Linked DNA regions of Homo sapiens. The protein of the gene in region 1 purifies or fractionates together with the protein of each later gene. This does not show direct contact. Each region holds a gene or a part of one and is shown in the gene's direction. Other genes may lie near its edges. The genes, in order: ACP7 and PDP2.

Region 1 (3,814 bases):
TACAGTCTTGGCCTCCAGACACCCAAGCTGGCAACCCTTAAATGATATCATGTGTGTACAATAGTTGGCACAAGACCTGCACACAGTAAATAATGATATTAATAATAATACTCATTCCCGCATATAACCCTAAGTGTACTAGGTACTGTTTCACGTGCTTTATTTATATTTATTCATCTAAGCCTCATAACAACCATATAGGGCAGAGACTATTATTTTTCCATTTTACAGACAGGAAAACTGAGGCTCAGAGAGGTGAAGTGATGTGCCCCAGGAAAGCTCAGCTTAGAAATGGCAGAGCTGGCTCATGCCTGTAATCCCAGAACTTTGGGAGGCCAAGGTGGGTGGATCACCTGAGGTCAGTAGTTCAAGACCAGCCTGGCCAACATGGCAAAACTACATCTCTACTAAAAATGCAAAAATTAGCCAGGCATGGTGGCACATGCTTGTAATCCCAGCTACTCGGGAGGCTGAGGCAGGAGAATCGCTTGAACCTGCGAGGCGGCAGAGATTGCAGTAAGCTGAGATTGCACCACTGTACTCCAGCCTAGGAGGCAGAGTAAGACCCTGACTCAAAAAAAAAAAAAAAAAAAAAAAAAAGAAAAGAAAAGAAAAGAAAAGAAATGGCGGGGCTGGGATTGAACTTGGGCAGTTCCAGAACCTGTGTCCTTAACCACTAACTGTTCAACAGTGGTCAACGCCCCTCACTTTTTCTGCATATCCCTCCCACCCTGCCCAGGCTTCACTCCCGGTCTACCCTCTGTCCCTTTCTCCCCAGGTGAGCCAGGCTCCATGACTGTAACTTGGACCACATGGGTCCCAACCCGCTCTGAAGTGCAATTCGGGTTGCAGCCGTCGGGGCCCCTGCCCCTCCGCGCCCAGGGCACCTTCGTCCCCTTTGTGGACGGGGGCATTCTCCGGCGGAAGCTCTACATACACCGAGTCACGCTTCGCAAGCTGCTGCCAGGGGTTCAGTATGGTGAGAGGGGCCCCAGGCTGAGCTGTTGAGGAGGAGTGGGAAGAGGAGTGGGATGCAGACTAGAAGCTACCACTGGCCGGTGGCTCAGGCTGGGCTGGTAACTCCACTGCCTATCTGCAAGCCTGTTGTATGAGACCCCAGGATGAAAACGGAAGGTGCCGGGGAAGGCAGACCGAAGGGGCATGGGCCAGCCCCCACCAGTCCCCCCATCTCCTCCCCTCCACCAGTCGGGGAAGGATGGGGTTGGAGGGAGGGTCCCGGGGCGCCCCAGCTGACTGCGACCTTTTCCTCTCCCATTCAGTTTATCGCTGTGGCAGTGCGCAGGGCTGGAGCCGTCGGTTCCGCTTCAGGGCCCTCAAGAATGGGGCCCACTGGAGTCCCCGTCTGGCTGTGTTTGGAGACCTGGGGGCTGACAACCCGAAGGCCGTCCCCCGGCTGCGCAGGGACACCCAGCAGGGCATGTATGACGCCGTTCTCCATGTGGGTGAGGCATCCGCAGGGGCGCGCGCAGGGACGGTGGGGGGCGCGCGCAGGGATGGTGGGGGGCGCGCGGGTCGGGGGCGCGCGGGTCGGGGGCGGTGCTAGGACCGTGGAGGGGACAGGGCTGGGGCCAGTGTGTCTCTGAAGGGACAGGGGATGAGACTGGCTACGGAGACGGTGTCTGTGGCCAACCAGCCTGCCTAGGTTAAAATCCCAACTCTGGCGCTCTTGCCAGGAGCAGGGGTTTTCCCCCGTATATTTTGATTAGAGAGAAAGCTGGTTCCGAGTTCGCAGGACTGTTGTGATGACTACGTTAGTTCGCTTTGCCTCGCAGGGTGCAGGTGCACTTCGGTGTCCTTGTGCTGGTTATTATTATTATTGCTGCTGTTGTTATTTAAGAGGGGGAAGGGAATTAGATGGGTAATGGGGATTGGGGATTGTGTGCTTCAAAGTGCAGACTCTGGAATCAGGCTCCCTAGGTTTTATTTCTACATCTTCACTAGCCAGCTGTGTGACCTGGGGCCTCAGTTTCCCCATCTGAAATGGGAATAATAATAATAATACTCATCTTGGGCCAGGCGCAGTGGCTCATGCCTGTAATTCCAGCACTTTGTGAGGCCAAGGTGGGTGGATCACTTGAGGTCAGGAGTTCGAGACCAGCCCAGCCAACATGGTGAAACTCCATCTCTACTAAAACTACAAAAATTAGCCAGGTGTGGTGGCAAGTGTCTGTAATCCCAGCTGCTTGGGAGGCTGAGGCAGGAGAACCGCTTGAACCCAGGAGGCAGAGGTTGCAGTGAGCCAAGATGGCACCACTGCAGTCCAGCCTGGGCAGCAGAGGGAGACTCTGTCTCAAAAAAAAAAAAAAAAAAAAAAAGTGCCCATCTTGGCCCGGCACAGTGGCTCACACCTGTAATTCCAGCACTTTGGGAAGCTGGTTTTGAATTCCTGGGCTCAAGTGATACTCTTGCCTTGGCCTCCCGAAGCGCTGGGATTAACAGGTGTGAGTCACCATACCTGGCTCTCTCAATTCCAGTGAAAGCAGAGCTGGGCCTGGGTCCTCACCCTCCTTCCGCCCCCTCCCCCAGGAGACTTTGCCTACAACCTGGATCAGGACAACGCCCGTGTTGGGGATAGGTTCATGCGGCTCATTGAACCCGTGGCTGCCAGCCTGCCGTACATGACATGCCCTGGGAATCATGAAGAACGCTAGTGAGGACTGAGGGTGGTGGCGGTGGGCGAGGGCTGGATCAATGGAAATGGTCTCGTTCTTCTTAGTGTCTCCCTTGAGTCTCTCATGCTGCAACATTTCAATTGTGGTAGCAAGAGGAGATGGGGGTGGGCTGGAAGCTGGACTCAGGGCCTGACAGTGGCGGGGTATAGGAGTAGGGCTATGAAATTCAGTCCTTCACCTCCATCCCTTGTACTTCCTTTATTCCAGCAACTTCTCTAACTACAAGGCTCGCTTCAGCATGCCGGGGGATAATGAGGGCCTGTGGTACAGGTAATGTGGGGGTGCTGGGGGACTGGCCCTCTCCCCTGAAGGATGGGAGATGCAGGGGAGCCCTGGTCCCTGACCCCTGCCCTTTGACTCCTCCAGCTGGGATCTGGGTCCCGCCCACATCATCTCCTTCTCCACCGAGGTCTATTTCTTTCTCCATTATGGCCGCCACTTGGTACAGAGGCAGTTTCGCTGGCTGGAGAGCGACCTCCAGGTAACCTGGGTGGAGGCCCCTATAGTCCCCTGGCCAGCCCCACCTCCCCCTCCACCCCTGACTCCTAGCCCCTCACCCTGGGCCCTTCTCCCTAGAAAGCCAATAAGAACCGGGCAGCCCGGCCGTGGATCATCACTATGGGGCACCGGCCCATGTACTGCTCCAACGCAGATCTGGACGACTGCACACGACATGAAAGCAAGGTGAGGTCCCTCCCTGGGAGACAGTGGGGACATGCTGAAAGCCAGGTGGGCGTCAGTCTGCGTCACCCTCACCCGCTCATTCACCCTGCCCAGGTCCGCAAAGGCCTCCAAGGCAAGCTGTACGGGTTGGAGGATCTTTTCTACAAATATGGTGAGCGACCCTCAGGACCCATGCCCCACACCCCACCTCTCCCCAATTCAGAGGTCTGATCCCCGCTTGCTCTATCTCAGGAGTGGATCTGCAGCTGTGGGCTCATGAGCACTCGTATGAACGACTGTGGCCAATTTACAACTACCAGGTGAGGCACGTGAAGGGCTGAGCGCCCACACAGCTGGGGTCAGGGTGGTCAGAAGGCCCAGGCATGGCCTCGAGTGACTGCCTGCCACCCAACGTTGTTCCCTTCCCCAGGTATTTAACGGCAGCCGAGAGATGCCCT
Region 2 (3,814 bases), on another chromosome or scaffold:
CTAGTGAGGCCCAGGCTAGACTGCAGTGGCACAATCACTGCTTTCTGCAGCCTCAACTTACCAGGCTCAGATGATTCTCCTACCTCAGCCTCCCAAGTAGCTGTGACTATAGATACACACCACCATGCCTGGCAATTTTTTTATTTTTTTTATTTTTTTGGAGAGACAGGGTTTCACCATGTTGCCCAGGCTAGTCTCGAACTCCTGGGCTCAAGCTATCCACCCACCTTGGCCTCCCAAAGTGCTAGGATTACAGGCATGAGCCACCAGGCCTGGCCCCCGAAGCAGATATTTAAATGAACACTTATAGTCTGCTGGTGAGAGTGAGTTTAGTGTATTTTAAATAGTTTATTCTAAGTCATTTTTGTTCAGGATATTAGCAAATGTTTTCAGAAGTCAGTATTTTTAAGAAATTAAATTTGTGGCTGGGTGCTTTGGCTCACGCCTGTAATCCCAGCACTTTGGGAGGCCGAGGCAGGTGGATCACAAGGTCAGGAGATCGAGACCATCCTGGCTAACATGGTGAAACCCTGTCTCTACTAAACATACAAAAAATTGGCCAGGTGTGGTGGCGGGCGCCTGTAGTCCCAGCTACTCCAGAGTCTGAGGTAGGAGAATGGCATGAACCTGGGAGGCGGAGCTTGCAGTGAGCAGAGATCACACCACTGCACTCCAGCCTGGGCGGCAGAGCGAGACTACGTCTCAAAAAAAAAAAAAAAAAAAAGAAATTAAATTTGAAACTTCAACTTTTTAATTTTTAGGTTTAAAAATATCCTTTTTTGCTGAAGGAACACATTTGCTGGTATAGTTTCAGAATGTCAAGTACTGTGTCCTACTGGATCTTAAATTCTACAAGGAACAGCATTGCCACATTGCAAGGGGGTAGACGCTTATACTCCAGGTATGTCTCAAATAGGAATAAATTAAAATGGAGGCTCTTTTCCCGGGTGCCACCCACCCTAAACAGTTCCCCATGTGGTGGCTTTACTCTGTGCAAAGCCTACAGACACACATCAACAGAGGAAGATGATTTTCACTTGCAACTCAGCCCTGAGCAGATAAATGAAGTGCTTCGAGCTGGCGAGACAACCCACAAGATTCTTGACCTTGAAAGCAGAGTCCCAAATTCAGTGTTGCGGTTTGAGAGCAACCAGCTGGCTGCCAATTCCCCAGTGGAGGACCGGCGAGGTGTAGCCTCCTGCCTGCAAACCAATGGACTGATGTTTGGCATCTTCGATGGACATGGTGGTCATGCATGTGCCCAAGCAGTGAGCGAGAGGCTCTTCTACTATGTGGCAGTGTCCCTGATGTCCCACCAGACCCTGGAGCACATGGAGGGAGCTATGGAAAGCATGAAACCCTTGCTGCCCATCCTGCATTGGCTCAAGCACCCAGGGGACAGTATCTACAAGGATGTCACATCTGTGCATCTTGACCACCTCCGTGTCTATTGGCAGGAACTGCTTGATTTGCACATGGAAATGGGACTAAGCATTGAAGAAGCATTAATGTACTCCTTCCAGAGACTGGATTCTGACATCTCGCTGGAAATCCAGGCCCCCCTGGAAGATGAGGTGACAAGGAACCTGTCACTCCAGGTTGCTTTCTCTGGGGCAACAGCTTGCATGGCCCATGTTGATGGAATTCACTTGCACGTGGCAAATGCTGGTGACTGCCGAGCCATCCTTGGTGTCCAAGAGGACAATGGCATGTGGTCTTGTCTGCCCCTTACACGTGACCACAATGCCTGGAACCAGGCCGAGCTGTCCCGGCTAAAGAGGGAGCACCCTGAGTCAGAGGACAGGACGATCATCATGGAGGACAGGCTACTGGGCGTCCTCATCCCCTGCAGGGCCTTTGGGGATGTTCAGCTGAAGTGGAGTAAAGAGTTGCAGCGCAGCATTCTGGAGAGGGGCTTCAATACCGAGGCCCTCAACATTTACCAGTTCACACCCCCACACTACTACACTCCACCCTACCTGACTGCTGAGCCTGAGGTCACATACCACAGGCTGAGGCCCCAGGATAAGTTCCTTGTGCTGGCCTCAGATGGCCTGTGGGACATGCTGAGCAATGAGGACGTGGTAAGGCTGGTGGTGGGGCACCTGGCTGAGGCAGATTGGCACAAGACAGACCTGGCCCAGAGACCCGCCAACTTGGGGCTCATGCAGAGCCTGCTGCTGCAGAGGAAAGCCAGCGGGCTCCACGAGGCTGACCAAAATGCAGCCACGCGGCTGATCAGACATGCCATCGGGAACAATGAGTATGGGGAGATGGAGGCAGAGCGGCTGGCGGCGATGCTGACATTGCCAGAGGACTTGGCGAGGATGTACAGGGATGATATCACTGTCACTGTGGTGTATTTTAACTCAGAATCAATCGGTGCATATTACAAGGGGGGTTAAGAATCTCCCATCCTATTGTCAAGGTTAACATAAATGCTCTTCTAAAATGTTTCACTTACTCCTAAACTAGCTATCCAAACCTTACTATTAAAAGCGCAGGCAGATTTAATTTGCTAAATAGACTAACAGGAGGAAAAAAACAAACAGCCTAGCTTTAAAAAACAGTGAAATAGCAGTGATTTCATGTCCCTGTATGTTCTGATTAAGTCTTATATGCAGAGAGGACAGAGCATAAAGTCTATAGAATTGGCTTGGGCTTGTGTAGCCCCAGTCATTTGATAAAGATGTTGTTAAACTGTGTCAGCCTGAGCCTTCAAAGGGTAAATTTAATCATGATTCTGAGAATAAAGAACTTCAGGAGCTTCTTAGGTCTTGCCACAAAAATCTGCAAATTTGATAATTCTCCTGAATTCACAATCATGGACTTGTAGACTATGAAGAGATATTTTATTTGTTTGTCTTTTATTTAAATTACTAAGGTCTAGGTTTACAAAGCATACTACAGGACCCTTTTCTATGCAATATCCTAACTTTTTTTTTTGTGATTATGCTTGTGAGAAATTTTGTAATACTACATTCTAGTTCTGTTTTCGTTTATTTTAAAACTGAATCCTTAAACTTGCAAACACGCCTACTGTAAGCATGCTTGGAATGACTTGTTTTGGTTTTCAGCTGATAGGATCTATGCCTCTGGACCAGCTGAACTTACTGGTGCAGCTTTTTGTGCCCTCTACTGAGTCCCATTCCAGAAACTTTGAGCCATGCTAGGAGGTAACTAGTCTATGCCTTAACTCCTGACCTTTCCTGCATTAGTAAAATTTCCTCCTGGGCTGAGCCTTTGGGGGTTGATTCACAGCATTTAAGCTTTCTGATTATACCTCTCAAACATTCTTCTGTCAATTCCACACAATCCTTCTACCTCTGCTATGCTGAACCCCTCATTCACCCTGCACCTGCCAACTGCAAAATATTGTCTGAAAGAATCTTTCACATGTTCCTGCTTCCTATGGCTGCAGGAAAGGAGAAAATGTGATTGCATGTGGTAGTTGTGGTGATAGACGTTTAGACAGGACAGGTTAATTTAGCGGATTGTGGACTTAAGATTCAACCTCTATCTGGAGAGGTGAAAACACAAAGGCTTAAGGACAACAGTTTCTAACCAAGTTTCTCTGAATCCTTTCCTGAGAGGTGGTGGGCAGGAGGGAGGAGTGAGACTTATCAGATGGGACGCTTGCCCCAAGACTGTGGGATAAACCACCATTGCTAGTCCTCAGGAATTAGACCATATTTAGTATAGGAGTTGGGGCAAAAATAAAAGTGTAATTTGTAATGGTTTCTGTGGGCTGTAGACTCTTTGTATTTACTTGGAAATTCAGTTATGTGGATCCATTTTGGAGATGAATTTCATC

Evidence for each region.
Region 2: the proteins of ACP7 (region 1) and PDP2 purify together in Homo sapiens (affinity purification with mass spectrometry; one large-scale study listed by BioGRID and IntAct). This does not show direct contact.

The regions. Positions count from the first base shown.
Region 1 is NC_000019.10:39,097,680-39,101,493, forward strand, and holds part of ACP7 (acid phosphatase type 7 isoform 1 precursor), read left to right. Parts: intron 1-778; coding exon 779-979; intron 980-1,280; coding exon 1,281-1,463; intron 1,464-2,547; coding exon 2,548-2,671; intron 2,672-2,900; coding exon 2,901-2,963; intron 2,964-3,059; coding exon 3,060-3,174; intron 3,175-3,269; coding exon 3,270-3,377; intron 3,378-3,470; coding exon 3,471-3,528; intron 3,529-3,608; coding exon 3,609-3,676; intron 3,677-3,786; coding exon 3,787-3,814.
Region 2 is NC_000016.10:66,883,470-66,887,283, forward strand, and holds part of PDP2 ([Pyruvate dehydrogenase [acetyl-transferring]]-phosphatase 2, mitochondrial precursor), read left to right. Parts: intron 1-761; 5' UTR 762-815; coding exon 816-2,405; 3' UTR 2,406-3,814. UniProt on the Homo sapiens protein: Mitochondrial enzyme that catalyzes the dephosphorylation and concomitant reactivation of the alpha subunit of the E1 component of the pyruvate dehydrogenase complex (PDC), thereby stimulating the conversion of pyruvate into acetyl-CoA.